Regions from separate parts of the Homo sapiens genome. Here all the other regions are linked to region 2. The links come from fine-mapping of genetic effects on plasma protein levels. A gene starts in region 2. Each other region holds a variant in brackets. All regions are shown on one strand. Distances are between the middles of the regions.

Region 1 (7,657 bases), 520 kb after region 2:
TCTGGTGTTAAAATATTTTTTTTTATTTGTTTTCCCAAGGACATTTAAAGGAAAAGCCTTCCTTACCCTGTGCTAAAAGTAAAATTAACACAACTTTGGGGGGGAATATTCTGAATATAAAGACTAATCTGCTTTATAGTTATGAGCCTGTCCAGGATTTTTTTCCCCCACCTTTGAATGGGAAACCTAGTTAGAGGATAAGTTAGAGAATAAGAGCCCCATAGAAATTTGGTTGTTTTTAACCATTATATATTTTGTATTGTGTGAAAAGTGTTTATGTGTTTTATTATTTTTGTCATGCTTTCTCTGTTCTGCATGCTTCAGATGTGTTTCCTAACTTGATTGAGAACTATTCAGGAGCAATTGCTTCTTGCTTAAGAATGAGTTAGCATCTAAAGTGAACTTGTTAGGTGGAAACTGTGAATAGCTAAGATTACCTTTGAGAATCCCTTAAAAGGACATCAAGTTGGCATAACATGCTGTCTCTCAGCATGTCCTACACAGCCATGTTTTTCATCCTGACTTGGAATGTATCACAGTTTCTTTAGATGAACTCCCAGTGAAAAAGTTGCTCTGTGTTTGGTCACCACCTTGTATGTTTTTTAAAAAAAGAGAAAAAGTGTTAAAAACTAGAATCATGCAATGCAGCAAGATGCTCAC[A/G]TTTTGAGATGCATGTGGTGATTGAAACAGACTAAAAGAGCAAGATTCTTGTTGCCCATCCCCCATTCACTCTGGAGCAGATATTCAATACCTGAAATGGTAAGCAGAATCTCTAGTAATTATTGTTTTTGTCTGTCTCTGCCTTCCTTTTTTTGGCCTACAGTGTTTGGTAGATTCAAGAAAGTTAAATGTGCCTAGACTCTGCTGTATGAACCAATTGATGGTAATAAGGTTTAATACAAGTAAGAAATTAAATTATCTTTAGGATTTATCATGAAAAAATCACCCCCTTTTGAAATCGCATAATGGAGGATTATAAATATGTGTCGACGATGGTTATTTTCTGAGTTCTGATCTTGCTAATGTTAACAATATCACAACTCAATTTTTAAAAAAGGCACAATAAAATATAAATATTCTTATTCACTGTTTAATATTTATTCACTGTTCATTTTTCAAGGTGTGGTTTGTGGGTACAAGATTCTATTTTAAGTACTGAAATCTTAAATTCTAATTTTACTCCATTTACAACCTACTCCTTCATGTCAGTGTTTTTATCCCTTAATCTGCAGTATATCACTTTGACTATTTTTGTCCCTTTAATAATTCCCTAGTATCCATAATTGCCAGTAACTAAGTGCTGACTTTAAACTTATTAGGAAATATAGTTTGGCTGTTTTGGAGATCTTTTCATATTTTTATAACGAAAAAATACAGTAACTATCTTTTCCTAAAGTTGCTATCAAGCAGTCAGACCATCTTTAGAGTTTAGAAACACAGGTTTGGTTTAAGAAGAATAAACATTACAATTTTAAATGTAGTACTTCAGAATAGTGTGTACTGGAATTCTAGCTCACTGATTATTGGTTAATATCATCTTGCAAAAGGAAATATGCTACCATCAGTTTAGTTTTCTCCTTATTTGGAATGTAAAAAAGGACAGTTACATTTTTAAGACTTTCTTTTTACCTGTACGTATGTTTAATTAACAATTTAAAGATTTGTTCAGATAGCCACAGCCAGTACTTCTGACGAACAGAAGTAGGCTTTTAGGGTTTCAATCCTTTAGAAATTATATTTGTTCTGGGGCATTAAATATTTATTATTAACAGAATTTTTCATTTATATATTTGTCATTTAGTGGACCATATTAAATGTGGAGTAAAAATTAGTAAGGTAAAAATTGATATGTAGGCCAGTTTTTCTTAATCCTTATTCACTGTGATCTTACCAGAAATTTTAACTATGAATGTTATGATTCATCTTTAAGACCTCCTAGTTGAACATCTTTTCCTTTCATCTAGGCCTAAAGTTAAGCACTTAATAACCCTTATCATTTAGGCTTCATTGTCCCACTGCCTCTGTGTTACAAAACCTTAACCCTGGTTCACACCAACCTTTGTTCCTATGCCAGATTATTGCCACCTTAAATTGTTTGCAGTATGAGCTGAGCATTCATTGCTACCTGAAAAATATTTCTTCTATTATTGTGGGTGGTAAGTTCAGACTTTTGCCTCTGTGTTAGAAAAAATCCCACCTCATCACCTGTTTGAACAGTCTTAGCATATCTCAAATAAAATCAGAGTCATTTTGGTGGAACTCCCTTTTACCATGTTTTTCTCTCCTCATTCACCCTCTGCTTAACCATGTTATAACCATATGCACTTCCACTCATCCTTCCTTCCGTACTCCTTCATCTATCCAAGTCTCTCTAGACCTATGCTTTTGTTGTCATTCTCGCCTGCATTCTCAGAGACCCTACTCCATCAGTCACAGTCTTTCTCCTGATTGCTCAACTTTTCCTTCTCTCTTTGCTCTCCCCTGATTATGATAAAATCATGATCAACTCTATCCTTTATTTTCAGAAACTCTTAAACCACATTATTTCAGTATTTCCTACTTTTTCTCCTTTTCTTTCTCATTTTCTTGAAAGAATAGCATGTACCCATTTGTAGGGTTTTTTGTTTGTTTGTTTGTTTTTTCCCTATTTTCTCCCTTTGCGTTTATCCTTCAACTCACTGAGATTTAGCTTCTACCATTTTTGGAAACTAGGTGTGCTAGTCATCTAGGACCGCAGAGTGGCTGAGTACAGTGGACTGTATCATGTCATTTGAAACTTTCTTTTCTGTTGTCATATCACTTTTCCATATGACAACTGATTTGTGGATCACTTTCTTAGAACTCTGTTCTTAACTCTCTACTGTCTACTTCCAAGAGGCCTTTAGGGGTGGAGTGCATGAATGGGCATTCATGCAGCTTTTGAAATGGAGTACAAAATGTTGTTTATATGTATGTATGTCTGTTTTCTTAGGAAGAGGGTCCATGGGCTTATGTATATTTGACTTAGACAATATTATGTTCATCCATGGTTTTAACTATGATGAAGTGATAACATGAAATTCTGGATTTCCAGCCCAGACCTCTGATAGGAAATCCAAAACCATATGCCCCACTTGATAGCCCATAATTAAAGTTTTCCAAAACAGAATTATCATTCCTCTTCCTGATGCCCTCTATACATATAGACTCCTCCACTCTTCAACATTTCCTAAGCCAGAAATTTGAGTGTCCTGCTCCTTTCTCCTTCTTTAAATCCTATTCCACATTGATTCTGTCTTCCAAGTATACTGATCTCCTAAATCCATCCTTTTATGTGTTTCCCTGGCTTAATTCTATCCTCTCTGTCTTTCAGTTGGTTTATTGAAATAACTTCCCAACTGGTTTGCCTGTGTCCTGTTTGACCCCACCTTGACAGTTCACCACATGTAAATCTGAGTAATTTTTCTGTAACATGTTAGTATTTTTTCAGTGATTCTGATTATCAGAATGAAAAGTGCCTAATTTGAGACATGTTGTTTGGTCTCTGCTTACATTTTTAGGTCTTATTTCATCAGTTTCCAAATGCACATTCTGTAGGGGTTTTAAAAGTAATTAAGTCTGTTATTTTGGCTTTCCCCCTCATAGTTTACCTCTTGTAATAACCTTGTCTAGGTCCTTTAAGTCTCAGCTCAAGCTCAGCTTCCTTCTTTATATCTAGTGCCCTCCCACCCCTTTAGATGCTCCTTCCCTGTCTTCCTACAGTTATAGCTGCATAATTATTGCAACTATTTTTCTTTCTTCCCAACCATACTGTAAGCTCATCATTGAGGGCAAGTGCAATCATATCAAAATGTTTTTCTTTTTTTAATCTCTAGAGCCTCATAAAATATCTAATATATGGTGGGTGATCTATAAATATTTGCTTAGTGAATGAATAACATAATATTTAAAATTTGTTTTCTCAATTTGACCTTTATACATTTCAAATAAAACTTAAAGGGAATCTTTTTCCTGGTACAAAATACAATGAGTTGTTTTTTTTTTTTTTTTTTTTTTGAGACAGAGTCTTGCTCTGTTGCCAGGCTGGAATGCAATGGTGCGATCTCTGCTCACTGCAACCTCTGCCTCCCGGGTTGAAGTGATTCTCCTGCCTCAGCCTCCTTAGTAGCTGGGACTACAGGTGCGCACCACCACGCCCAACTAATTTCTGTATTTTTAGTAGAGACGGGGTTTCACCATGTTGGCCAGGATGGTCTCAATCTCTTGACCTCGTGATCCGCCTGCCTCGGCCTCCCAAAGTGCTGGGATTACAGGTGTGAGCCACCGCGCCCAGCCTAAAATGCAATGAGTTTTGAAGAACTGTAAACTTCATTAACATCCAGTGCCTAGCCCAGATCCTAGTAGATAGGAGAAACTCAAATATTTGTGTATAAATGATTTATAGGTAACAATGAACTAATGAGCTGTTACATTTTTAGTGTTGCTCATTCAACCTGGGGAAGAAAACACATCAAATAAAAATAGCAAATCTGGTAATGTGCTTTGCTTCATTCCCTTAACAAGCATAATTTCATGCTGATTATTTTGATAAGATCTCAGGGAGCTTTACTTGATGTGTTTCCAGGATTTGTTTCAAGATTTAGAGCTCTTTTTAGCAGTTTTTGTAGTGCTGGCTTGGTAGTGGCGTGTTCTGAGCATTTGTTTGCCTAAAAAGACTGTACCATCCCTTCATTTATGAAGCTTAGTTTTGCTGGATACTAAATTCTTGGCTGATAATTGTTTTGTTTAAGGAGGCTGAAGATAGGGCTCCAATCCCTTCTAGCTTGTAGAGTTTCTGCTGAGAAATCTGCTGTTAATGTGATAGGTTTTCCTTTATAAGGTTACCTGGTGCTTCTGCCTCACAGCTCATAAGATTCCTTCCTTCATATTAACTTTAGATAACCTGATGACAGTGTGCCTAGGCGATGATCTTTTTGTGATGAATTTCCCAGGTGTTCTTTGAATGTCTTGTATTTGATTGTCTAGGTCTCTAGCAAGGCTGGGAGAGTTTTCTTAGATTATTCCCCCAAATATGTTTTCCAAACGTTTAGATTTCTCTTCTTCCTCAGGAACGCTGACTATTCTTAGGTTTGGTAATTTAACATAATCCCAGACCTCTTGGGGGCTTTGTTCATATTTTCTTATTCTTTTTTATTTGCCTTTGTTGGATTGGGTTAATTAGAAAACCTTGTCTTCGAGCTCTGAAGATCTGCTTGTTCAATTTTATTGCTGAGACTTTCCAGAGGATTTTGCATTTCTATAAATGTGTCCATTGTTTCCTGAAGTTTCGTTTCTTATTTATGTTGTCTATGTCACTGAAGATTTCTCCCTTCATTTATTGTTTATTTAAATTTCCATAAATTGGGCTTTGCCTTTCTCTGGTGCTTCCTTGATTAGCTTAATAACTGGCCTTCTGAATTCTTTTTCAGGTAAATCAGGGATTTCTTCTTGGTTTGGATCCATTGTTGGTGAGCTACTGTGATTTTTTGGGGGGGGTGTTAAAGAACCATGTTTTGTCATATTACCAGTGTTAGGTTTCTGGTTCTTCTCATTTGGGTAGGGTCTGTCAGAGAGAAGGTCTAGGACTCAAGGCTGTTGTTCAGATTATTTTGTCCCACGGGGTGTTCCCTTGATGATATTCTCCCCCTTTTCCTAGGGATATGGCTTCCTGAGAGCCAAGCTATAGTGATTGTTGTCTCTCTTCTGGATCTAGCCACTCAGCAGGTCTACCAGGCTTTGGGCTGGTACTGGGGGTTGTCTACACAGAGACCTGTGATGTGAACCGTCTGTGGGTCTCTCAGTCATGGATACCAGCACAGTATTTGGGGTATATCCTGGGCCCTGCAGGAGCAATCTGCTTCCTTCAGAAGGTCTGTGGGTTCTCTTGGCTTTCCTGATTTATTCCTGCCGTCATTCTGGAGCAAGAGTTTACAATGCAAGACTCCACACGGTGCTCTGTCAGAGTGGGAGCTGCAGTCTAGTCCTGCCTCCCGTCTGCCATGATCCCCCCCCGACCCTTTTTTTTTTCTACTCAGGTCTCAGGGAGCTTTAAAGTTTTCAGTTACTGTAGTTTGTAACAATGTGACCTCATTACCGAATCCTAATATTAGATCTCTTCTTAGAGGTTGAGTGTATTATCTTGTTAGGATTTGCTAGGTTTGTGAGTTAGAATAAAAATGAAGTCTTGCTTTCTACTTTTTAAAAAAGAAAGGCACAGAGGATTCAGGACATTACTGTGATGTATATAAAAATGGTGAAAGTAGTGGTCCCAAGTACCCCATTAATTTGTAAGACCATGCCAGAGGCACAGTATTAATACATCATGTTTCTTGTTCTGATGCTACATTTTGAAAGCACTAACTTGTGTGGTAAAAGGTAGGTTCTAGGTTCTGAGGCAGAGTATGTTTAGTTTACTATCAGAGCCTTTCTTTAAAGACTTGACTAAATTTAGTTATCTTGAATACATTTTTGCAGTGTCTCAGTGTGGGTAGAAAATAAAAACCCCAATGCTTTGGCATCCATTGTATACCTTACTTCCTCTCTATGGATGACATGTACAGTGTACATACATACTGTGTACTGTGTACAAACATACTGTGTACTGTGTACAATTCTTGGGAGAATTGAGAAAAAGTCAAGTCACTTTCAATAAAAGAGTTGTATTCTCTTACAGACCCCCATTGAGAAAGGCTGGTAGGAGCCAGGCTATGCACTGAATTCAGGCCATGGATTTCTGTCACCCAGGCTGACTGCAGTGGCATGATCATGGCTTACTGCAGCCTTGACCTTCCGGGCTCAAGCAATTCTCCCACCTCAGCCTCCTGAGTAGCTGGGACTACAGGTGCATGCCACTTGCCTGGCTTTTTAAAATTTTTTTGTAGAGTTGGGGGTCTCACTGTGTTGCCCAGGCTGGTCTCAAACTCCTGGCCTCAAGCAGTCCACCTGGCTTGGCCCCAAAGTGCTGGGATTACAGGTGTGAACCACTGTGCCTGGCCCCCAGTCCATGGATTTCTTAATAGATGAATTTCTTCCTTGGCCATTATTGGCTTGAGACAAAATTAAGCGGTGATTTAAGAATAAAAGACATTGGCTAGGCATGGTGGCTCACACCTGTAATCCCAGCACTTTAGGAGGCCGAGGCGGGCGGATCACGAGGTCAGGAGTTTGAAGCCAGGCTGACCAACATGGGGAAGCCCCATCTCTGCTAAAAATACCAAAATTAGCCGGGCGTGGTGGTGCGTACCTGTAATCCCAGCTACTCGGGAGGCTGAGGCAGGAGAATTGCTTGAATCTGGGAGGTGGAGGTTGCAGTGAGCCGAGATCACGCCACTGCACTCCAGCCTTGTCAACAAAGTGAGACTCCGTCTCAAAAGAAAAAAAAAAAAGAATAAAAGACATCATCTCTAAGACAGTGGTTCTCAACTACGATCCTTGACCTACTGCATCATCTGCAAAGTTGTTGGAAATGTAAATTTTCAAACCTCATCTCAGTGCCATCTGATCTGCTGAATTGGAATATTGGGGTGAAGAGAGTAAGGTGGTAGGGCTCAGCCAGTTTGTTTTTCAAGAAGCCCTGCAGGTAGTTTCAATATATAATAAAGTTTGAGAATCTCTGCTCTGTGCTGTCCACTGACTCTTG
Region 2 (8,257 bases):
TATATCTTATCATTAATCTATTTTTCATAACCAACTAACAGGGCATAGGTTAAATCTCACAAAAAAATATCCTATCTGAAGGCTAATTTTTAAATAAGGAGTGATATGAGTGATATGAATATTCGACTTGCTATTTTTTCCTCCAAACAGCAAGAAAACACTGTAATGTTTTCATTTCCTTACAGCGATTTTTTAATTTAAATTTTCTTAAGATATTATAAAGTGCTAATTTAAAGAGAAATCTACATTTTGCAAAGGCATTAAGTGGCATTGATTTTTTTTAAGATGGAGGCAATAACTGCAGTGTCAAAAATAAGTATCATGAATGGCTAGTTCTGCAGTATAGCAGGCAATTCAATCAAATAATTCGACTGTTCGAGCACCTTAAAAGGAACACCTAGTGCTAAAACCAAGGGTATCTAGCGACTCCTTCAGTCCATGTTTAAAATATCTCTTATAAAACACATACACAGCCCAACACGTTCTGTCTTCTATTTGCTGTCTCATTTATTCCATTCTGTTTGTTCATTTTCTTTTTGATCCTAGCAGAGATAATAATGACTGCCAGGGGAAAAAAATAATCCTTCACATTTTTATCTGCCAATATAACTGATATCTACTACCTGAAAATAGCATGTTTTATTGTGACTAATCAAAATACTGAAATTTCACAGTGTAGCTGGCATTTATTGGAACCTGAGAAAACAAAATGTACCACATCTCTTTGTTCATGTATTCCATTAATATAATGACATTTTACATTATGGTTGCAACTTTTGCACTTGAAACTAGTATTCTAAACTATTTATTTTGGGGGGTTATTTGGATGTCTAGTTGGAAAAGTGAAAGATCAAGCCTCTATATTCATGAAGTTATTACACAATAAATTAAACAGTTAAAAGATTGTACTTTTTTAATATTAATTGATCCCCAAAGAACCAATTTTGCACATATGGTAAATTAGATTCATTTACATCCATCAACTCAGTTGAAAGGCTTTAGCACAACAGACAGCAATTCCACCTGTCCAGTTGAACTTCTAAAAGACTGGAGACGACCTTTCTTCAGGACCACGGACAGCGCTCCTGGCATTCATTATTCTGGAGTAGTACATTGAAAGTAGCACAATAAATAACTAACATGATATTTGAGTGACAATGTGTAAATTTCTACTACACAGAGTAAAGGAATTGGAATTATTGCATTGTTCACATTATCAAGAGGACTATTTTATCAACTGTGTTGTGTGTATTTTTCAGTGCAATTGCTTGATAAGCCCAAGATGTAGTTATCTTTTTTTGTAATAGGGCATACTGTTAAAAAAACTACTTATATTAATTGTGAGATTCCTCATGAACACTAAACTACTTGATTGTCAGTACAAAAAAAAATTGCTAGAAAGACCACAATTCAGAATGCCAAATAACATGCTGTCAATATTCAGTGGCTAAAGACATTTTTTAAATGTACAATTAGTTATCACTTTCAATTCTCCACCTCCAGATTTCCATCTGTTACTAGGGTAATGAGATTAATTCTTGTTCTTTCACATTAAACTCACTCACTTCCTGGGGGGGGGGGGAATGCTAAATTTACATCCCTATACTACAATAAAATGATTTGGTGGCATAGTTGATGCCTTAACATGTGGCAATTTTGAAGTTATTACAAGTTTCTCCCCAATACTGATACCACACATCATAGTTCTGAGGTTATATGAAGGATTAATAAATTCCTTACACAGTATTTCACTGACTAGATTTAACCCTTTTAAAAATTGTGTCAGTTCTGTAATTTGCTTCTTCCTTAAAGGAAAGAGAAAACTACTGCTATTGGATATCAGGCAATTATATATACTTAGTAAGATTTATATATTTTATTCTATGGTCTCATTTTTTTCCTCATTTTAACCATATGGCACTCTTTATTTCTATGAGCCAAAGCTCTGTAGATTCCAAGGTCAAAGCAGAGATAACAAACTGCAAAAACACACATACACGCACACCCAGAGAGAAGCTGTATTTAGAAGTATACCTCAAAAAAATCATAGAAGGCTGACACAAATATCAAACCTATGATAAATTGACAAAGAAGAAAATGCATATCATGTTAATGCAAAGCTTCTTCCAACAATAACAAAAAAACCCACTAGCTTCATCTTTCACTATATTTTTATATTTGCAGATACTAATGACCTCTTATTCTTGGGCACTATTACTTGAGAAACAATTTTAGTTTCCTATTCTGCCAGTGAAAATGAATCTTATTCTAGTTAGCTGCCACCTGCTGGGGTATGAGAAAATGTGTAATAATCTTTATAGCACAACATTTAAAAAGACAATGCCTATACCTTTTGCTGGAAACAGCAAATACATACCCCAGAACAACCTGAATTTCAAAGATGTTTCAAAGGTTCTTACATGCCATAGCTATATTTAAATTTTTCACATGGAATTCTTACTAAGGATTCCACTTGACTTGTCACGGAAGTCCTGCTGTTATGTGACATTTGAAAAACCTCATCTTATAGTAACACCTAACCTATTATTCCATGCAAGTGGCCTGTTGCATAGCAATTTAGCTAAAACAAACAGCCTGTTTATACATGGCATTAAAGATCTCAGAGAATAAAGTCAGGACTGAGTCAGGTTTCAGTTGAAATCACACTGTTGCATACTTGCAACTCACTCTTCTTAACTATGCATGCTGTGGTATCCCTTATGATTCTGAACACATTATCAGCTGTTCCAGCAACATTCTGCTGCATTGATGATTAATGACATTTAGAGTTTTGATTAATTTTTAGACACTAAAATAAGTGTATCTTAATTAACAAATTGAAGTGGAATAAATTTACATATCCCAGAACTTTTTTTTTTAAATTTCAGCCTGTGTGATTTTCAATGGGTTTAAATAGGAGAAAACAAACAGATAAGACTTCCAAACATTGCTCAATTCTCTATCACCTTGCTCTTGTGCATTTCAATTTTTTGTTGTTTGTTTGACTCAAAAGTTTTTAAGGCCACTGGAAGTTGATAGGCTGCCTTGGTGGTTACAGGAATAGACTCTATAAAGTTAGAAAGTAATGAACTAAGACAAATCAAGATTGAAATACAATTGCATTTATTTCAGTAACTAAACTGACTAATTAAGACTCAAATGAACCAATCATCTCTCGTGAAATGAAAATAATCATCAATCCATAAGATAATTTCTGATGACAGAATACTTACAGTATGGAGATGAATAAACGATAGAAGATAATCTGTGCATTACCAAAAGGCTACTAATAGTAAGTTTTCTAATATTCCCCATTGCCTAAATTGGAAATTATTCTCTAAGGAGCCTCAGCTCGGTCGTGTTGTTTGGTAAAGAAACTCTATCTCCTTAAAGGTAAAAATATCAGAGGATGTGGTTCGTTAAAAGTTCTTGAGGTTTATGATCCACCCTGGTAACACTGCCCACTCCTTACCCTAATGGGACGCCCTCCAAGTTTTTTCAGAAGCTCTTAATACGGGTGCCGGTTAAAATAAATATACTTCCTCAGCGCAGAACTAAGGAGTAGGGTTAATGGAAGGATGGGTGGGCAGAAGGAGGGATGGGGAGTTCGTCAGACCCGCCGGCAGCCACACAGCTTCTTGCCATCTGTCTCATTCTCTTCGCCTCGCGTGAGTCCCCGTAGCTGAGGCCACTTCCTGACACGTCCACTTCTTAAATCATTTTATGTGGAGAACATAGGCGACTGCAGCCAACAGAGCCACTTGCATGCTTGACGGGAATTGGCTGAGATAAGCCCGACAAAGACTCGCAGTGAATCCGTCCAGCGGGCGCCCCGAGCGCACGGACGTCCGCAGCGCTACTGTTCGCCTTCTTCCTTCTCTCCAGGTGGAAAATGCCCCTCGCCCACCCGCAGTCCCTCCCGTCCTCTTGAAAACAAACACCTCGTGAAGGAGCCCGGAGTGCAGCCCACAGCCGGGGAGTCCTTACCTGGAGCTAGGGGTGAGGTGGGCGGGGAGGGGGTGGGGTGGTCCTCGGGGAGGAGCAGCCGGAGGAGGTCGGGCGGAAAAGTCCCCAGCTACCAGACCGACCAGCGCAGCCGCCGGCGCCGAGCGCGAGTGACGGCAGCGGCGAAGACGGTGACCGAGGAGCAGCAGCGGCGGCGGCGGCGGCAGAGACAGACACGCCTCCTGGCGGGGGTTCCTCGCCTCTTGCTTTAAAGGCGCCGCGCTCCTTTCCCCGTGGCCCCTGCACGCTCCTGGCCGCCGCGGCCACTCGGGGGCATCTCCCACCCCTGGACCACAGGAGCTAGAGCGAGAGAATTCCTGGTGTCCCTAGACTTGGATGTTACGAAGCCTCCGGCTGGACTTCGCTCCCTTAGCGCACACCCGCCTCCTGGGATGGGGAGACTAAGGCCAAGATGCTCTGTCAGGGAGTGAGTGATGCATGCAAAGCGCCGAGGAATTTGCCTAGCCTTGGGTGGTGACAACACATATAAGGAGCCCAAACACATTTGCTTCTGGGTGATGGCTTTTATGCCTCTCCGAAACCATAGCAACGAAACTTCTCCACTGCCAGGGCTTGGAGGGCTGCTGGTAGTCTCCAAAGTGGACCTCTTAGTCCAACTACGGTCATTTCCCTGAGGTTCGCAAAAAAAGATCTTGATCTGCGCACCCTCCCACCCCGACCTCCAGCGCATAGAGCAAATGCGCTCTGGTAGCGCTGCTGCGGGTATTCCCTCAGATGCTGGGAGTCACAGTGCCCTGCTCCCTGCCACCATTATTGAGAACAGATGCTTGGAAATTGACTTTTCCTGAGTGTTAGGAGGTCGGGCGGGCTGTCTCTGTGTATGTATGGCGCCTTAAATAGCAGACTCCCCTCTCCCCACCAAACTCCCGCCCAGGCCCCGGAACTCTCAACCTAAACACATTTCAGAAAGAAGTTGGATTCGAGATCTAGTGGGCGCCGAACCTGAGGTCGCAGACTCCAAGATTGGAGACAGGAGTCTGGGAAGCAGCCCTGGTTTGGCGGCCACTGGTCCAAGTTCTCGGGAGGACTCTTTTAAAGGCCAGAGATGGGGAGGGGCAACTGAGTCCCAGAGTCTTCCCGCAGCTTGGCTTCCAGGGAGGGGCTGGCGGCGGTGAGCGCACCAGGCTCTCCCTGCTTCACTGTGGAAACGATTAGCTTTTGCAAACAATCCCTGAGTTCCGCTCCTCTGGGTCGGAAAAGTCAACATCTATTCAAAACCGTTGCTATTTTATCCTCAGCCCTACAATATTAACTGGAGCTGAGTTTAGCAGTTTCCCCCAGAGGAAGTTGGCCAGCTCAGATTCGCGAGGAGATTTAAGTGAGGCTAAGCGGGAACAGGCCAGGCGCACTGGGCTCAAGAGACCATTTCAAACGGGCTGCATAAAGAAGGGGCCAGGGGGGATTCCACGGCTCTGCAGTCCCCTAGCAGTTCCAGTCCCTGGTGGTTCTCCACTATCTATCTAATTCCGAGGTCCGGGAATTAGAGAGGCTCTGAGTCCCCAGGGACCCGTTGTCTGAGCTGGAGACCAGAACTTGCCCTTTTGCTTCCTCCTTCACTGCAGCCCTAGTAAAGTTAAGCCCTCGCCGGACCCTGGCGCAGCAGGGCCATGTTCCACACCCTGAGGCTAGCGCCTGGCTCAGAATAGCTCTGAAACACAGAAATTCAGTCCTGCCAAAACCGCCAGTCTTTCCCTCTTGGTCACCATCCAGGACTCTCTGCGCCCCGTTCCCCACAACATGCTTACTGAGCATTCCTGGGTGGGGCAGGGTTGGGGGGAGGGGGACTGGGGACTTATGTTAAGGAGAGATGAGTTAGTGGCAATGGAGAGTCCATTAGTCATTTGAAGATCCCAGGGGTGGCTGGGCGGCTCCCTTAATTAAGTCAACAGCAGCCTTGTTCTACCCAGTAAATAAATAGTCAATGACTCTATTGTGCATCCTGGAGCGGGCAGCACAGACGCGTGACCGGTTCTGGGCGCCTGGGCTCCAGCTGCTGTGACCTGCAGCCTAATGGGCCCTCGAGGCACAGCCGAGTTTGGGCCAGGCTCCGAAAAAATGCCCCATTCTGTCCCATTCCTCCATGGGAGTAAGGAAGATAACTTGTCTACTGGCTAAAGACTCTCTCCTTGTCATGATTACATCCACCCACTTCCAGGCAGAAAGGAGCAAAACACCAGCACGAGCAGATTCCAGTGGAAATCCCTGAGTGAAGGCACCCAGCTCTTGTGACAACTCTGAGAGTGTAGAACAGAGTGTGTCTAATTTGACATTAAGTGTTTAGCATAGAGTCTGGCATGCAGTAGGTGCTGGATAAAGAATGGTACTGGGATAGACCTTCCGCTTTCCACACTGTTGCCCCCAGACCCACATTGTACTTGGGAAAGGAGAGGCTTACTAACAACTTCCTGTTAGTGCTGTGTATGATTTGAGAGCCTTGTCACGAATCTATTTTTTTGAAGCAAACAGGACACACTTGTAAAGACAGAAATAACAAGTCCCAACAACAGCATAGGAGAAAATAGGAGAGAGCTGGAGTGTAGAACAAATCAAAATTATGCATGCTGTGACAAATTAATTTTCTCAATAGCAAAATATTATCTAGATTCCAATGAGAAAAACAGACTAACAAGGGAGCATTAGACACCACACAATCTATTTAACCCTTCAAAAATAATTCAATGCTATAAAGAAATATTTTTCATGATTTATTTTAGGATTTAGGAAGTTAAACATTTAAGGAATGAGATCTCAAGTATCTTCTCGGGCAACCATGAAGCTTTTTTTTCTTTTATTTCCAATCACTCTTAAGGTTTAATCTTCTAAAATTTAGAAGGTTGCTAAGTCCTTCAGCTACAGTCTTATGCAGGAACAACATCCCTACTTACTCTCTCTTGCCCGGCTCCCGCCCTCTCTTTCTTCCCTCTCAAAGTGCTCTTAGAACATTAGCAGCTCAATATTTCAATTTCTGAAGACACAGCAAAGACCAGTCTGAATTCAAGCTAACTACCAGGATGTTTGTTTGTTTTGGCTTGATTTTGTTGAACTGAATGTAAAATTGAAAAGTATTATTTTGGATCATCTCATTAAACACCTTCATTTTATAGATGGTAAAAACCAAAGTGAGAGAAAAGGAGTGACATACTCAGGATGTGGCAGAACTGAGACTGCCTTCTAACTGTGCAGAACAGCATCAGGCCGTCTCTTGTAGTCTCTTTCAAAACTTAGACTTATATGAAGTCAAGACTTAAAGACATTTCAAGGAAATCTACTCTAGTTCAGTTTTCACAGACCTTTCTCTCATCTGAAAACAAAATGAACACATGTGCAATGACTTCAAAATTTTACATGCAATAATAGGAGATGCACAGATGCCTTGAAGGCCATCATGGGCTGGTGAGGAGCTTCTTCACCCTAAGCTGAGAACCACCAATCTATTCCAACAATGTGATTTTAGAGATGAGAAAATCTAGACAATGAGAACTTAAAGAGTCACAGAGTGAGTTAAAAATAGTTCTAGGACTAGAGACCCGGTATCTTGCTTCCCACTTATTCCCATTCCCTCAGGTCATTTTAGCCATAATTGGACATAAACATGCTGAAGAAGAAATGAACGGATGTCCTTGATTAGTCAAGAAAGGATGGGACCTAGTACAAGAAGAGGGGTTTACTTTGGAATAGGAGAAGGACCAATAAACCCTAGTAATAGGAAGGGAGGCACAGTATATAATGCAGATGTCAAATAGTTTTTAAGTGTGGTGTTGAGGGTCTATTTTTCCTACATGCGCTCCAAAGCCCTATGCTGGGCTACTTTGCTCCATAGATACCTTCCTTACCACTCTCTGCCTTCCACTATCCTAACTCTCACGCAGATGACTGTTTTGCTTGGTCTCACTTAAATAATTTAGTACTGAATTTTTCAGTAAGGGAAGGGAAGGAGAAGAAGAATAGGAACAGAAAGAGGATACGAGGTCCTGTTGTTGTTCTTTGTGTTTTCTTCATGACGTAAAAGTAAAAAGCAAGCTAAGAGTCTTGAGTAGGGAGAAAGTAATAGATGTTTAAGGAGAATGGAGAAAATGTGGCATTTTTATCAGGAGCATTTTATCAGGAGTGTGAAAGGATAATAAAATGTAGTTGGATACTTGTCCAACAGTCAGGGCCATTCTACCTTGATGACTTAGGAATCTTTGAACATTTCAAGAACTCTCATTCTTCCTTTCTACCAGTATAAATC
Region 3 (6,400 bases), 510 kb after region 2:
ACAGGGCCAGGAATGCCAAATATGAAGTTTCACTTTACATGAGTAGGCAATTAGCTTATTCTCAGGATGCTGGCCCTGAATGCTTGAATAAGAATGTTTTTCCTTTGTGTCATCAACCTAAAAGTCTTCACTTTTCTGTACTAGTTATTCAATTAATTTGGAGAAGATTTGGGGGGTCAGTTTTGGTCTTTTTGTCTGGTGGCAGATATTAATATCTTTTGCTTGCTCTCAGTCTATATGTCTGAGAAAGCGAAATGTGTATGGTGATAGATTCAATTGTGCCATATTTTATCCCCATTTTCAGCCCTTATTCTCACTTCTGCCCTATCCTGTGTAGCTTCTCCACTATATTTTTTAGGCTATGGTTTTGGTCAAATCACTACTATTTGCTTTGTATCCCAACACATTTTTGAAATTTCATTTGCTTCTCTTGACATCATCTACTTTTTTCTACTCATGTAAGTGCATGCATACAGGCACACATCATCTTTACTCCTTCACTTATTCTTCATTTTTTCTGTTTCTTCATTTTTATTTCTATGGTGTGTAGGAAAGGATAGTAGGCAAATGATATGCCGAGTTCACCATATTGAACAGTAATTCAAGAAAAACCCTTTATATATTGTAAGCACATATTTTGAAACCTGGGTAAAACATATTGCAGGATTCTCCGAAGCTGATTGTCCCTTGGCCCATATGCCCACCTATACAACATTCTTATTCAAAGGGAAATGAAATTACTTTGGGAGAAGCTCACATTTTTTGAGTTGTTTGGTACTTTTAAAAAATCATCTTACTAGTTAAGAAAGAGGAAAGAAATGGTGGTTGAGGAGGCAAACAACACTGTCTGCCATGGTAGTAATCTAACTTTTTTCTTTTCTAATATCATTTATTTAAAAGAGTAGAAAAACATTTTAGAATTGAGTCTTTTATTAATCAGCATTCCTCAAAGGTTAAGCATCAACTTCAGAGCAGGAACTGCACTGGAGTGCAGTAAAGATGGAATTTTAAGACTCGGTGTTGCAGGATAAGGCAGGGGTGAAAAAGGGCAGGGAAGAAGTGACTGACAATAGATAAAATAAGAAAGGCCTAGAAGCTGAGGCTATGGCACACTGGTGAGCTAGGCAGACCTAGTGCACACACATACTGAAGGAGGTATCCAGAGACTGATGGGCTGGAAATGGTTCTGAAACTTGGCAACCCATCCTTACAAACCATGAAGTGGCAAATCTGATAATGAAAGGCTAACATACTAAGGATAATGAAACATAGAAATGAAAAAAGTCAAAAGCATGAATGATTTTGTTGAGCTGTAAGAAATAGGTTGGAAACACTTCCACCTTGAAATTTTCTGTTCTTGAGACAATTTTGAGATAATTTAAGGCACTCTTTGCAAAATAATCATGTTACACACATACAGAAGACACACACAAACATATATAATTTTACCTAAATGTGTTCATATTATGTATAGATTGTGTTGCAAGCTCTTTCATACAACTGTACATTTTGGACATATTACCATATCAAGCAATACAGATTCACATTATACTTTTTTAATGCCTCTATATTTAGAGATGTATTACAATTTATTTAAATAAATCCAATATTGAGCCTTTTTTTGGTATGATACTTTTTTTTTTTAAGACAGTGTTTCACTGTTACCCAGGCTAGAGTGCAAGGGTGCGATAATGGCTCACTGTAGCCTTGACCTCCCAGCTTAAGTGATCCTCCTGCCTTAGCCTCCTGAGCAGCTGGGACTATAGGTGCATGCCACCACACCCAGCTAATTTTCATTTTTTTTTTTTTTTTTTTTTTTTTTAGAGAAAGGGTTTTGTCATGTTGCACAGGCTGGTCTCAAACTCCTGGGCTCAAGCAATTCACCTGCTTCAGCCTCCCAAAGTACTGGGATTACAGCTGTGAGCCACCACACCCAGCCATATGATATATTTTTAAATGCAATGTGGAGTTTTGTTTTGTTTTTCAATTAGAGATGGGGTCTTGCTCTGTTGCCCAGACTGGAGCTGAATGGCATGATCATAGCTCACTGTAGCCTCAAACTCCTGGCCTCAAGAGAGCCTCCAAATTCAGTCTCCTTGGTAACTAGGACTACAGGTATGTACCATCAAGTCTGACTATTTTTTTTCTATTTTTTGTAGAGATGGGGGTCTTCCTATGTTGCCCAGGCTGCTTTTGAACTTCTGGCTTTAAGTGATCCTCCTGCCTCAGCTTCCCAAAGTACTGGGATTACAGGGGTGAGCCACTGCGCCTAGCCCACTGCAATGAGTTTTAATTGGTTTCCCAGCCATGCACTAATTTCAACCCACCCTACCCAATATTGCCAAAGTAATCTCCCAATCCCATTTTGTGACTGCCAAACACTGACTGCCTATTATACTCAATTCTTTAAATTTAAAATTGAGTCTCCTTATAGACTAGTTTGTTTACATTTTAACTTTGTCACTACCTTCTATTAACAATGTTCCATTACAGATAAATAGGTTTTCATTATCTAGAATGCAGTTATAGTCTTGTTTCTTGTCTTTGCTCATGGCATACTTTCTGGACGGTCTTTCTCTTTGTCATCAGGGCCATTTTCATTAGGTTGTCTTTCCACTAACATTTGGGGAAGCTGGGCTTGATGGCAGGTACCTGTAGTCCTAGCTACTTGAGAGGATGAAGCAGAAGAATCATTGAGCCCAGGAGTTCACGGCTGTTGTGCACAATGATCATGCTTGTGAATACCCAGTGCACTTCTGCTTGCGCAATACAGCAAGACCCCATCTCTTGAAAAAAAAA[AT/T]GGGGAAACCCTGGGGACTATAAAGAGGACAAAGATAGCTCTTAGAGTTCAATGAAGTAAGACCATCCCTCAGTGTCCACAGGGGATTGGTTCCAGGACACTCCCACATACCAAAACCCCAGGATGCTCAAGTCCTTACACACAATGGTATAGTATTTGCATACAAACTATGCACATTGTCCCATATACCTTAAACCATCTCTAGGTTACTTATAATACCTAATACAATGGGAAATGCTATGTAAACAGTTGTTACATCCATATTGTTAAGGAAATAATGACAAGAAAAAAAGAGTCTGTGCGTGTTCAATGCAGACATTACCATTCTTTTTTTTTTTTTTTTTCAATTGTTTTTGTTCCAAAGTTGGTTGACACATATACAGAAGCCATGGATACAGAGGGCTAACTGAATTTCCTTCCAGGCCAGGACTATGTAATACAAATATGATGCAAGCCACCTATGTAATTAAAAATTTTCTAGAAGTCACATAAAAAGTAAAAATAAAGTTGAAATTAATTTTAACATATTTTATTTGATCCATTATATATTATTTCAACATGTAATCGACATAAGAATTACAATATTTTACATTTGTTTTCTAAGTCTTTGAAATCTGGTGTACATTTTGGACTCATTGCATGTCTCAGTTTGGACAAGCCACATTTCAAATGTCAAGAGACGTATTTAACTGGTGGCTACCCCAATGGATAGGGCAGTTCTAGGTAGTCTATTTTCAGTTCCTCTCTTCTCCCTTAAGCCTCTGGAACTGTGATGGGAATAATCTGTCATGTGAATTCCTAGCACTTATCAGCACCTCTCATTATCACTTGGCCTCCTTGCATTATTTATTTTTGTGATGCATTTGTCTTGTCTCATGAACTAACTTGTAAACTCTATGAAGTCCAGGACCAAAGACACATGTAATCTCAAGACTGGAAATATCTTTAACAAAACCATCAACTAATTATTCTGTTGATGTGTGGCTCCCCTGTACCAAGTCCCTATTAAGTGAGCTTCAGAATCTCCTTGAAGCAAAATTCTGTGGTTGAGGTATTCACACATGCTAAGGTAGGCAATTCTTTGGGTCGTGCTACAAGGGCATCTTCTTTTCAGGATCTTAAATCTGTTCCCTGAAGTTTGCATCACATGAAACAAATCAACTTCACATGATAGGTCATTTCATATTTGGAGAGAGTCCAGTAGTTTTCTCTCTTCTAGGTGAGTCCTGGAAGGTTTAATCAATCCTTCTTCACTTGCCCTGTTTTTGAGTTCTCGTCATCATTTTGCTCTTCCCTGATATAATGCCAGCTTGATTAAAGTCTTCAAATGCTGAACACAGCACTTCAGAGGTGGTCTGACCAGTAAAGACAATAACTGGATCACTATTGGCTGCCTCTACAAAACAGTTCTACCAGGCATCGGGGCACATTACCTTGAGGAAGCGGGAATGGCAGAAGAGAGCCACAACAAACATATTAACTCATACTATCTTTGCATTGTTGGCTTTTAGTCTAGAACTCTTTGCAGATAAACCACACAATTCTTTAGGTTAGTTTTTCTTCGTATCTTCCTATCTTTTCAATCGAGTTAGGGAATCTTTGGGCTTTCTGTTTTTGGAGGAGGTCTTCTGACCGAAGAGCCGACTTGCAGAGATCACTTTGAGGGAACTAAGCTGAGAATCCAGAAAGCTTATGGAAAACAGGCCTTGACACCAGAGAACCATGTATACTCTCTAGCAGCCAGAGGGCTTTGGCTGAAAACGACGATAGCAACTACCTGTTTCTTCATTCAAATTGCTCTCCTTTCCTTTACCTTTAATAGGAATTATTTCCTCCACATATTTACCTTACAGAGAAGGGCGGGGAGAAGACGCGGCAGACTGAAGTAAATGCAGGGAAAAAACTCACAGGTAGAGAGGTAGAGACGGCAGGCCTGGCCCGTTGCGGGCAGCCAGGGTAAAGTGGAGCGTCCCGCTCCCGCCCTGGGGCGCATCCTCGCCGCCGCCGGGACCTTCCGCCTCTGCTCCTCCGAACCCAGCGGACTAGAGGCTGGAGGCGGGAGGCGGAGCGGCGCGCGCACGCGGGCGGGGCAGAGGGCCCGGAGTCGACGAGTCGACGTGCCGACGTTGGCGCTGCAGCGGGGCGGTGACGTGTAGGCCGGCGCCAGCTCCACTCTGTCCCTCCTCGCCGGGTCTGTGCGTCTTTGCGTCTGTCTGTCTGACTGATGGTCCTCACACGCGGTTCCCTGTGACTGGGCGCGACCCCGGCAAGCGCGGCTTGGAGGGCGGACGGGGCGCGGCGATACAGCTGCCCGCTCGCATCTTTGGCCCTGCGCTCAGCTCCTCACCCGGCGTGGGAAGTTAAAGTAAAACCGAAAGGGAAGAAGGCGCGGTGGCAGGAGCTGACAGAGTGATGGGAAACGCGTGAGCCAGGCCGAGAGGTGAGGAGGTGGAGGTGGAGGTGGGAGGACGAGAAGGGTCGCCGCGGCCAGGGGAGCTGGCTGGAGGCGGGGACGGCGAGGCGGGCTACGCGACCCGCCAGAGATTCTCTTCCTGCCTCCGGGGCAAGTCCCGACCTGTCATCCTTTTCAGTGGCATGAGGTCGAGTCCGGGGTCTCGCAACAATACCGCCCATTCCTAGAGTTTGTAGGTGGGGTTGGGGATAGAAAACTTAACCTAAGCTACATATTGTCCAAGTGTTAAGCCACAACGTGACCAGATGAGGTTTTTCTGTCCCATGCATGGGTAATTTGTTTTCTTTTTTTCTGTTACAAAGCCTTGATAACTTCGTTTTCTTCACGTAGATTTGGGGAAAGAAATCTTCCTCATATTTTTCCCCCAACACACTGGAAAGTAAATAGGTAGCTGACCGTGATGGATTGTGGGTGAATTTCGCAATCAAGGAGCCTATAATGTCATTTTGAAATAAATAAATGTGTATGTGGGTGCTAGGGAGGTTTTGTGAGTACTGGGCAGTCATTTCAAATAGGTTTCTTATAAATTAACTTACTCATGGAATGCAGTGTGCTAATGGTATTTGCTATTCTTTGGTTTAAAAGAAGCATAATTCTAGGGGCTGGTAAAAGTTTGATGTGTTGTCACTTGTGCATTCAAACTCATGGTTACATTTTCTTTCTTTCCCTAGGTTAGGTGAGATTGACAGCCATTTTCTCCATCACCAGATTTTATGTTTCATAGATTGAAATCCTTTTTCTGATTCTCAAAGTTCTCAAATGTTGAGAATTAAGCTTTTGGTTTTACTATGGATTGTGCTCCAGTTTATGTTGTCTCTTTTTTTTAATGATGGTTATAATAGTCTTGCATGAGAAAAATGATCCTTAAAGATGCTCTTAAGCTTAGGCTAAATAATCCTATTTATATGAGAAATTAATTTTTCATGGTTCAGCTTTCTTGATCCCTGCTTAACAGTTTTTTGTCATTCATTCATTCAAGTCTTCCTATGTGTCAAACGCTGGGCTAGGCCTAGGAGAGCAAGAGAGAGACAGTCTCTGTGCTCATGAACTTTCTATAATCCAGCAGCCTCCTTTTAAGACAGAATCTTGACTAGGGTTCTTTCTCATGCCATGGATCTGTAGTTAAC
Region 4 (8,257 bases), 500 kb after region 2:
TTATATTTTTTTTAGTAGAGATGGGGTTTTGCCATGTTGGTCATGCTGGTCTTGAACTCCTGACCTCAAGTGATCCACCTGTCTCGGTCTCCCAAAATGTTGGGATTACAGGCATGAGCCACCGCACCTGGCCCCTATAATCTTTAAGGCTGTTTTTTACTTCTCAAAGATTAAAGTCACATGAATTAAAAAGTATCACAGCTTTTATCTTCCCTTTGAAAAATATTTGATGCAAGCACTCATTTTCCTTTAGGCCAATTAAAGCTATTTTTATAGACATCACAAACACAACACATACATAAAACTACACAGACAGGCATAAGAAAACCCAGTTGCCATAAGATCTTTTGCTTGCCAGTCTCCTACTTGGATTACTGGCCTCCTGGTGGAGCCCTTTAAGAGACAGGGCCAGGAAAACACATAGCCTCTAAGGCCTAATAAACAGGCATAACTGGGGGCAAAAACAGATTTTGAGAGGAATCTATCCACTTTTAATTCCATTAGGAAAACAGAGGTCTCTCCCTTCTCATGCATGCATTGAAAGTGGCAAGGCAAAACGGAGAAAAAGAATTCCATTCACTGAGAACAAAACTTTTTCCACTGGGAGGCCGAGGCAGGTGGATCACAAGGTCAGGAGTTCAACACCAGCCTGGCCAAGATGGTGAAACCCCGTCTCTACTAAAAATACAAAAATTAGCTGGGTGCAGTGGCAGGTGCCTGCAATTCCAGCTACTTGGGAGGCTGAGGCAGGAGAATTACTTGAACCTGGGAGGCAAAGATTACAGTGAGCCGAGATCGTGCCACTGTACTTCAGCCTGGGCAACAGAGTGAGACTCCGTCTCAAAACAAAACAAAACAAAACAAAACAAAAAAACACTTTTTCCAGCCAAACAAGATCCCAGAAGAGAAAAACATTAAGATCTTTTAAATATACCTATAATTTGGATATCCACTTTCAATTAAGCTGAATGCTCTTTAAGAAAATCCTTTTAACACCTTATTACCTGACTTTAGCTGTGCCAAGCGGCCAATATTTCTGGCTTTCAAACTTTACTGAAAGCTCAGGGAAAGGAAAATCCGAGGTGGTTCATGTAGAGGAAGAGAATCAATAAATGGCAAAGGTCGCACAGATATCAAAGCAGAAAGGAGTCATTTCTTTTTTTTTTTTTTTAGGTGTATTATACATTTCTTCTCTTTTTTTTTTTTTTAATTATACTTTAAGTTTTAGGGTACATGTGCACATTGTGCAGGTTAGTTACATATGTATACATGTGCCATGCTGGTGCACTGCACCCACTAACTCGTCATCTAGCATTAGGTATATCTCCCAATGCTATCCCTCCCCCCTCCCCCCACCCCACAACAGTCCCCAGAGTGTAATATTCCCCTTCCTGTGTCCATGTGATCTCATTGTTCAATTCCCACCTATGAGTGAGAACATGCACACATATGTTTATTGTGGCATTATTCACAATAGCAAAGACTTGGAACCGACCCAAATGTCCAACAATGATAGACTGGATTAAGAAAATGTGGCACATATACACCATGGAATACTATGCAGCCATAAAAAATGATGCGTTCATGTCCTTTGTAGGGACATGGATGAAATTGGAAAACATCATTCTCAGTAAACTATTGCAAGAACAAAAAACCAAACAGGAGTCATTTCTTAAGCCAGGATTGAATCTTGGCTGTGTAGACGCTAAACAAAGCATTGCCACAGGGTTACACATCATGCTCTCAAGGACCTAAAACAAGAGGGAGGCCCACAGCAAACTTTGTTGCTGATCATTCAGAAAGTCATGCAAAGCACACCGGATTGGCTATCGCTTAAGACCAATCTCACAAATCCTTTTTCATAACTGAAACTTTACAGAGAATATAAACAGTGATCACTGGGGTCCTGGCCTGGTTAAAATGTTTTCCAAAAAGAAAAAAAAAAAGTAACCCTCTCACATAAAAATTAACTGCTGACTAGATAGCGAAAAGGAAACAAAAGTTAAAGTGCAGGGTTGGAAAGATGCCTGGGGGAAGAACTTCATATTCTTTTGCAAATTGGTTCCTTTCCCCCAGGCATGGACCCAGCAGGAGTCTGGCCAGCCAGCTGTGCAGAGCCCAAGCCCCCAAGGCGGCCCTGGTGCCTGGATAGTGACTGTGGCTCATTCCTGCCATGCAGCTGGACACTGCACACACATGTGGCAGTCAGGGCCATGCACTCCACTCAGCTGGGAGAGAAGGCGGGTGGGGAGCCACTGCTTGCCCAACCAACCCACAGGCATGCTTGTGGCTGTTGTGGTGGGTGTGGACCACCTCCCATATTGTAAAAGAAAAGAAAAGAGAGGGGAGGGGAGGGGAGGGGAGGGGAGGAGAAAAGATAGATGCTGTTACTGTCCTCAAAAAAAGAAGAAAAATGTCATAGGAACAAAATACTCAGAAATAAAAGTGAGAGGTTTTCAGTCCACATTTCACTCACCCTTCTTCATGTCCCAAGTTCTGGGTGCCAAAAATGTTGAGAAAAAAAAAAAGTTCTTGCCAAGTGACCAGGTAAAATTAGGCATGCAGACACTTTGCAGGGTGAGGGGGAATGGAATTTACTGGGCAAAAAGGAAAAAAATACTTTGCAAAGCGAGAGGGGTTCCTGTTAACAGGCCTCACAGATTGAATCCCAGGTCACCACACAGGAACTGATGAGCCCAGGCTCCTGCCCCCTGCAAATGGCGTGAATTTCCTGAGGCTCCACCCCATCCTCCCCATGCCCAGGCCAGTGGGAGCTTCTCCCAGGACCCTCCCTTATCGTCCTCCTGCATCTATCAGTTGCATGAAGTGGTGTATAGCACTGTTCACTTAAGGTTTCTATACTTTGGAACACTTCAATGTTTAAAAAAGCTATAGCTCAATTTTTAAAAGTTCTTGGTCAAATAATAAAGGAAACACTATTATAAAAAGAAAATTATTTAACAAATACTTACTTATGTCTACTATGTGTCAGGCACTCTGCTGGTACTCGTGGATACAACCTAAAGCAAAAACACAGAAAACTGGCATATACACTGAATCAGCCACTTTTATCCTTTAAACTATCACCAGCAACAAAAGAATTTTAAAATTCAGTAACTTTATATTCTAGAATGAATCCTACAAATACACCTTTTAAGAGTTTACATATGAAAGGTTTTATAAATAAATTCTACCTATACTTATATGATCAATTCAAATTTCAGTTTTCCACAAAGGCTTTTAATCTCCTGCAGCCAACAGGGGCCTATCTTTAATTTAGACTCCTTTTGTATTCATAAAAGAAGTATCACACAACTCAGCACCTAATTGTTTTTGAAAAGTCTTGTGAATGTTAAATTTGTCTCCTACCCAAACTGTAAGTTCTTGTAAATTCCTTGAGAATAGAGATCATATCATATTTTTCTTTGGAATGTTTCACAATGCTTAGCAAAGTGTGGATTATGAGATATATGCTTAATTAGTTGTGGGTAGAGTGAATGAAAATTTCACTTAATCATAAAAATACTTAAGAATAGTTTAAGTTTCAGGAAAAATTAATTTTTAAAATAATTAATATCCAGCATTTTATTTTGCCATCTTCTACTAGCTCAATTTTCATATGCTTGAAAGAGATAAAAGTTATTATTGACATTACATTCCATTCTGTTCCCTGAGGTTCAGTTCTGATAAGAACTGAAGAGAGGCTACCCTTATCTGCTTAATACCAGTATGTTTGCTTTAACTGAGGAAAAGCTTTATGGGTGAAACATTTATCTCTAAATATCTCTTTATCTCTTACAGTAATAGAACCCATGCTTTTTAACTAAGTATATAGTTGCTTAAAATGAGGACTGTATGTTCTAGCTTTCCTTGCAACTGGGTGTCACCATGTGACTTAAGTCTCGTAAATAAAATATGACTGTAAGTGATAGGTATACTTTCTTTTTTTTTTTAATCAATTAGCTAAAAATTTAATTTACATACATGTTGGCCTGGATTAAAAACAAAAAAGTTAGTTTCCATAAATAGCAGACTTTAGGGCTGTATGACCCAATGACTAAAAATAAAACCAGGAAATTTTTACTAAAAGCTCAAGGATAAAAATGAACACTGGCTGGCTATTGAACTCCACATCTGACAATAATTACTGACAGTTTAAAAATGACATCCACAATATAACCTCAAGAGGACCAGGTTTATTTGTCCGACAGAGCAGCTCAAAATGTTGAGGCATCACTTGTTTGGATTATGATGGGTTATTCTCAAAGTTTATTTATTTAGAAGGGGAAAGTGATTATAGAAAAATACTTGAAGTAATTTGCCAATGAAGTCACAGATTCTAACAATAATCCACATCTTAGATTTTTAAGTGTGTAGTTTCATAGTTTAAACAAATTCTGTCAAAGAGCTAGTGAATATACTTTATCACTTTAACTTTCCATGAAAACCAAATAAAAATCACATCTGAATGATTTACTTCTATGCTTTTATCTGATTGTATACATATGATGTACTACACATCCAAGTACAAGAGGCAGTTATCTTCTCTGAGAGGTGCAAGAGTTGTTCTTTCATGAATGCCCTCTAATAGTGAAACCAGCACTTTTTATATATGCATTCATGTGCATATATACGTACTTCAAAAAGCAAAGCGTCATCTCTTCGTCCATTGTTAACTTAATGGTAAGAATGGGGGCCACCAGGCATCAGTGGAGTACCAGAAGGTCCTGAAGGCACTTAGAAAGGATTACTAGGAGTAGGATAGAGTCCTGGTGTGGGATACGATCCTGTAGGGGCAGGATATGGTGCTGGTGGTCCCCAGGCTCCTAGTGGAACGGTGCCCCATGGAACAGGTGGTGCTGCCCCAGAGGCTTGGGGAGGAGGAGGAACAGGATATGGCCCTGGAGATGGATAGGGCATATTAGGGGTAGGATACTGCCCTCCCATTCCTGGCACCCAAGGTCCAGAAGACATGGATCCCCATGGACCTAAAGGACCAGCTGCAGCTGGATCTGTGGGTAGCACCATATGGTCTGGGTAGCTCTGGAAAGGGCATATTTGGTATAGGATATGGCCCTATGGGCCAGGGCCTGGCACAGTTGAGGCTGGATAA[G/C]GACCACCAGGTGGGGGGCATGATGGTTCAGAAGGAGTAAAGGGTGCTGGGGGTCCTGGAGGTGGTCCGGTGGGAGGCACGGAGAGATACATTCCTGTTGGTACTGGTCCAAAAGGCACAGTGGAGGGTGTTGCACTTGGTGGGAGTCCAGATGGCACCGAAGGTGGAGTACTCGGATTATTCCAAGGGTTGGAGCCTGGTCAGCTTTGAGGAGGTTGGCCAGGTTTTGTATTGCTCACAGCAGAGGTTTTGGCAGGGGAGTGTTCAGGTAGTGCATCTGCCAACGAAAATTCATCAGACATTTTCCCAGCAATATCCGAGACTGCAGGAGGGTCTAGAAGCGGCGATGTGTCCAAGGGACTGGGCCCTGAAGAAGCAGGCGCAGCCTGACTGACTGCAGCGAGAGCAGCGGCGGCAACAGCACCAGCAGCACCAGCAGCGCACGGCTCCTCCTCGATAGGTGTACTTTCAACTCATGTTCCCAAAGATATGTCCTTTTCTTCTCCTCTTCCTTTAGACTGCTGCTTGAAATATATATGGTCATGACTGTGAGCCATTTTGAACTATTAGATGAAAACAACACTCTAGAAATGGCAAAGTGACAAGAAAGAAGGTACTCTCGTCCCGGGATGACTAAATTGAGAAAGCAACTACACAATTTCAGGAGTACCCATCACTAGCCTATTATATGAGAAGAAAACTCTATTAAGTTGTTGGTTTGGGGTCTCATATCCTAACTTATCTCTTGGAGGAATGATAGAAAGACAACAGTTGGCAAGGAATGATTCTTCCCTTTTCACACAATGCTTTAAGGATAAATATATTTCAGCCCCAAACTTTGGTGGATTATTTGCTTGTATAAGAAAGTCAAATCTAGTTTCAGATATTAAAGGCTAGATAAAAATCATTAGTTTTGAAGCTAATTACTTCCAATTTTCTTTTCTCTAGGTCTCATGCACACACACTAACATATGTTCATAGGTATACCCACATTTATCATGGGGTATCACCTGGCATTTAGGAAACCAATTGGACACCAGGTTAAATTAACCAGTGACAACTGTGACTTGTAGTTTTCATTTCATATGTTTATATTGACTGAGAATGGTGTTGCTTTTTGCAACCTAATCTATGACTGCATTCTTGAAATTGGATTTTGTCTGATTTTTGTATTTTATAAAAATTTAATATCTCACTACCTGATTGGAAGTAGTTTAAAATATTTTTGCAATGAACAATTCATAATTTCAAGGACACCAAAAGAAACATGGCTTTCATATTGCATATTCACTTCAAAATTTATATAGCTATACATTCCTCAACACATTAAATGTTCCCTGTATTTTCAAACATCCTCTACTTCTTCCCTCCTGTGTCCCAGGAAAACTTCTCTCTACCAAGGTTAAGAATAACTTCACCCACAGACTTCAGTGTATCCTTGTCTGCCTTTACCTTATTATTTCCTTACTTGATTCACTTCTTATAGGTTCTTTCCTTCTATTTATATGTTTTTTTTTCTATCCTAAAAACAACATGCAAGTAACAGTTTTTTTCTGGACCTTGATATTTCTTCCATATATTGCCCTGCATTTTTCATTCATTTATTAGACAAAAACAATTATCATCACTGTTTTCACTTTCTCACTTCTCATTTACTCTCTTACACTTGACATCTAATGCCATGCCTACCATGTTACTAAATTGCTTCAAATCATCAATCACTTAAATTTCCAAAGACATTTACTCAATCTTCACCCTCCTTAACTCTGAAGCAGGAATTACCTTGGTGATTGAAGAAAACTTTTTAAATATACTCTTCGTTTATCTCATAACTCTTTAACCACTCTTTTTTTCTCCTTCATTGGCTCTCTTTCTTCCTTTCGGTACTAATTTTCCTGCATATGTACTGTTTTTTACCCTTTCCATGGTAATATTTTTTAAAAATTTCTTTTGAGGAACTACTCTTTCCTCCCTTTTATTCTGGCACTATTTGGTTTACTATATCTTCATTTTTTGTTTTACTTTTTTTAAATATTGATTATTATTATTTGAAATTTTTTCTTTTCATAGGTTATTGGGGCACAGGTAGTGTTTGGTTACATGAGTAAGTTCTTCACTGGTGATCTGTGAGATTTTGGTGCACCCATCACCTGAGCAGTACACACGCATGCAATTAGTAGCCTTTTATTCCTCACCCCCTTCCCACCCTTTCCCTGAGTCCCAAAGTCCATTGTGTCATTCTTATGCCTTTACATCCTAATAGCTTACCTCCCACTTATGAGTTGAGAATGTAAGATGTTTGGTTTTCCATTCCTGAGTTACTTCACTTAGAATAATAGTCTTCAATCTCATCCAGGTTGCTGTGAATGTCATTAATTCATTCCTTTATATGGATGAGTAGTATTCCATCGTATATATATATCACAGTTTCATTTTTTTGTTTTTCAAATTTCCTATCTTACCATCTAGTCTATTGAATTCCTTCTTTTTTTTTCTCTTATGTGACCTCACTTCTTGAATCCTCCATGCTCTTCTCCAATGTATACTGCTTGCTCTCTAGACTTGCTGCACAGCCATCCTGCAGAGATTTGTCCTTACCTTTCTCTAGCATCAGCATAACTTTTTGTCCTTATTTTGTTGGATTGTATGGCCTAGTGACATTCCAAAAGATCACCCAGGAGAAAAATATTCTACATCCTTGTTAGTCTGAAAATATCTTTATTTTACTCTCATAGTTAATTGATAATTTGAATGAGTATAGACTTGTAGACTGAAAAACATCTACAACTACAATTTTGAAAATATTCTGTCATGTCTTCAGGTATGCAGTGATGCTGATAGCATCAGTCCCTATTCCTTTGTTGATTATAAGTCTTTTATGTTTAGGAACTTTGGGGATTTCTTCTTCTTCATAATTTTTATTTGTGGCATTACATGATAATATCTCCAGGCATGAGTTTTTTAATCTATTTTTCAATACCCTGAGTCTACTCAAATCTGAATAGTTATTTTCTTCTCTGCTCTAAAAAAAAAAAACTTATAATTTTCTCACTCTCCCTCCCCTTTTTTTTAAAAATCTTTCTCATCTACTGGTTGAGCCTATTGGATTGGCTCTCCACGACATTCTTATGTTTTCTTTCTTAT

Alleles and levels. Alleles are on the strand shown, and positions count from the first base shown. The strength of an association depends on the size of the effect and on how common the allele is.
For the plasma level of the protein whose gene starts at base 4,117 in region 2, allele A in region 1 goes with a lower level than allele G (strong association).
With allele AT in place of T in region 3, the plasma level of the protein whose gene starts at base 4,117 in region 2 is lower (moderate association).
With allele G in place of C in region 4, the plasma level of the protein whose gene starts at base 4,117 in region 2 is lower (moderate association).

What was found. A credible set is the group of variants that fine-mapping cannot tell apart. PIP is the posterior inclusion probability: the model's chance that the variant is causal. The UK Biobank Pharma Proteomics Project read protein levels with antibody pairs (Olink). The fine-mapping took linkage between variants from a reference panel, not from the people measured, so its PIPs are less certain.
Region 1: its variant is the best candidate, but not a certain one, in a credible set for the plasma level of the GRIK2 protein (UK Biobank, PIP 0.52).
Region 3: its variant is the best candidate, but not a certain one, in a credible set for the plasma level of the GRIK2 protein (UK Biobank, PIP 0.70).
Region 4: its variant is the best candidate, but not a certain one, in a credible set for the plasma level of the GRIK2 protein (UK Biobank, PIP 0.84).

The regions. Positions count from the first base shown.
Region 1 is chr6:100,870,843-100,878,499 of GRCh38, reverse strand. All of the region lies in intron 1 of ASCC3 (activating signal cointegrator 1 complex subunit 3), which reads left to right. Among named protein-coding and RNA genes, the nearest start is that of ASCC3, 6.7 kb to the left of the region's middle. The variant A/G (reference allele first, on the strand shown) is at 661.
Region 2 is chr6:101,389,568-101,397,824 of GRCh38, reverse strand. It overlaps GRIK2 (glutamate ionotropic receptor kainate type subunit 2), which reads right to left and starts at 4,117. Exons shown (of 17, transcript NM_021956.5): 1 at 3,988-4,117.
Region 3 is chr6:100,879,901-100,886,300 of GRCh38, reverse strand. ASCC3 (activating signal cointegrator 1 complex subunit 3) reads left to right here and starts at 4,972. Exons shown (of 42, transcript NM_006828.4): 1 at 4,972-5,240. It overlaps LOC107984041 (a long non-coding RNA gene), which reads right to left and starts at 4,844. Exons shown (of 8, transcript XR_007059692.1): 1 at 4,647-4,844. RefSeq lists an enhancer at 5,009-5,128. The variant AT/T (reference allele first, on the strand shown) is at 2,800.
Region 4 is chr6:100,886,761-100,895,017 of GRCh38, reverse strand. LOC107984041 (a long non-coding RNA gene) reads right to left here. Exons shown (of 8, transcript XR_007059692.1): 2 at 2,973-3,020. It also overlaps the pseudogene LOC728098. Among named protein-coding and RNA genes, the nearest start is that of ASCC3, 9.6 kb to the right of the region's middle. The variant G/C (reference allele first, on the strand shown) is at 5,114.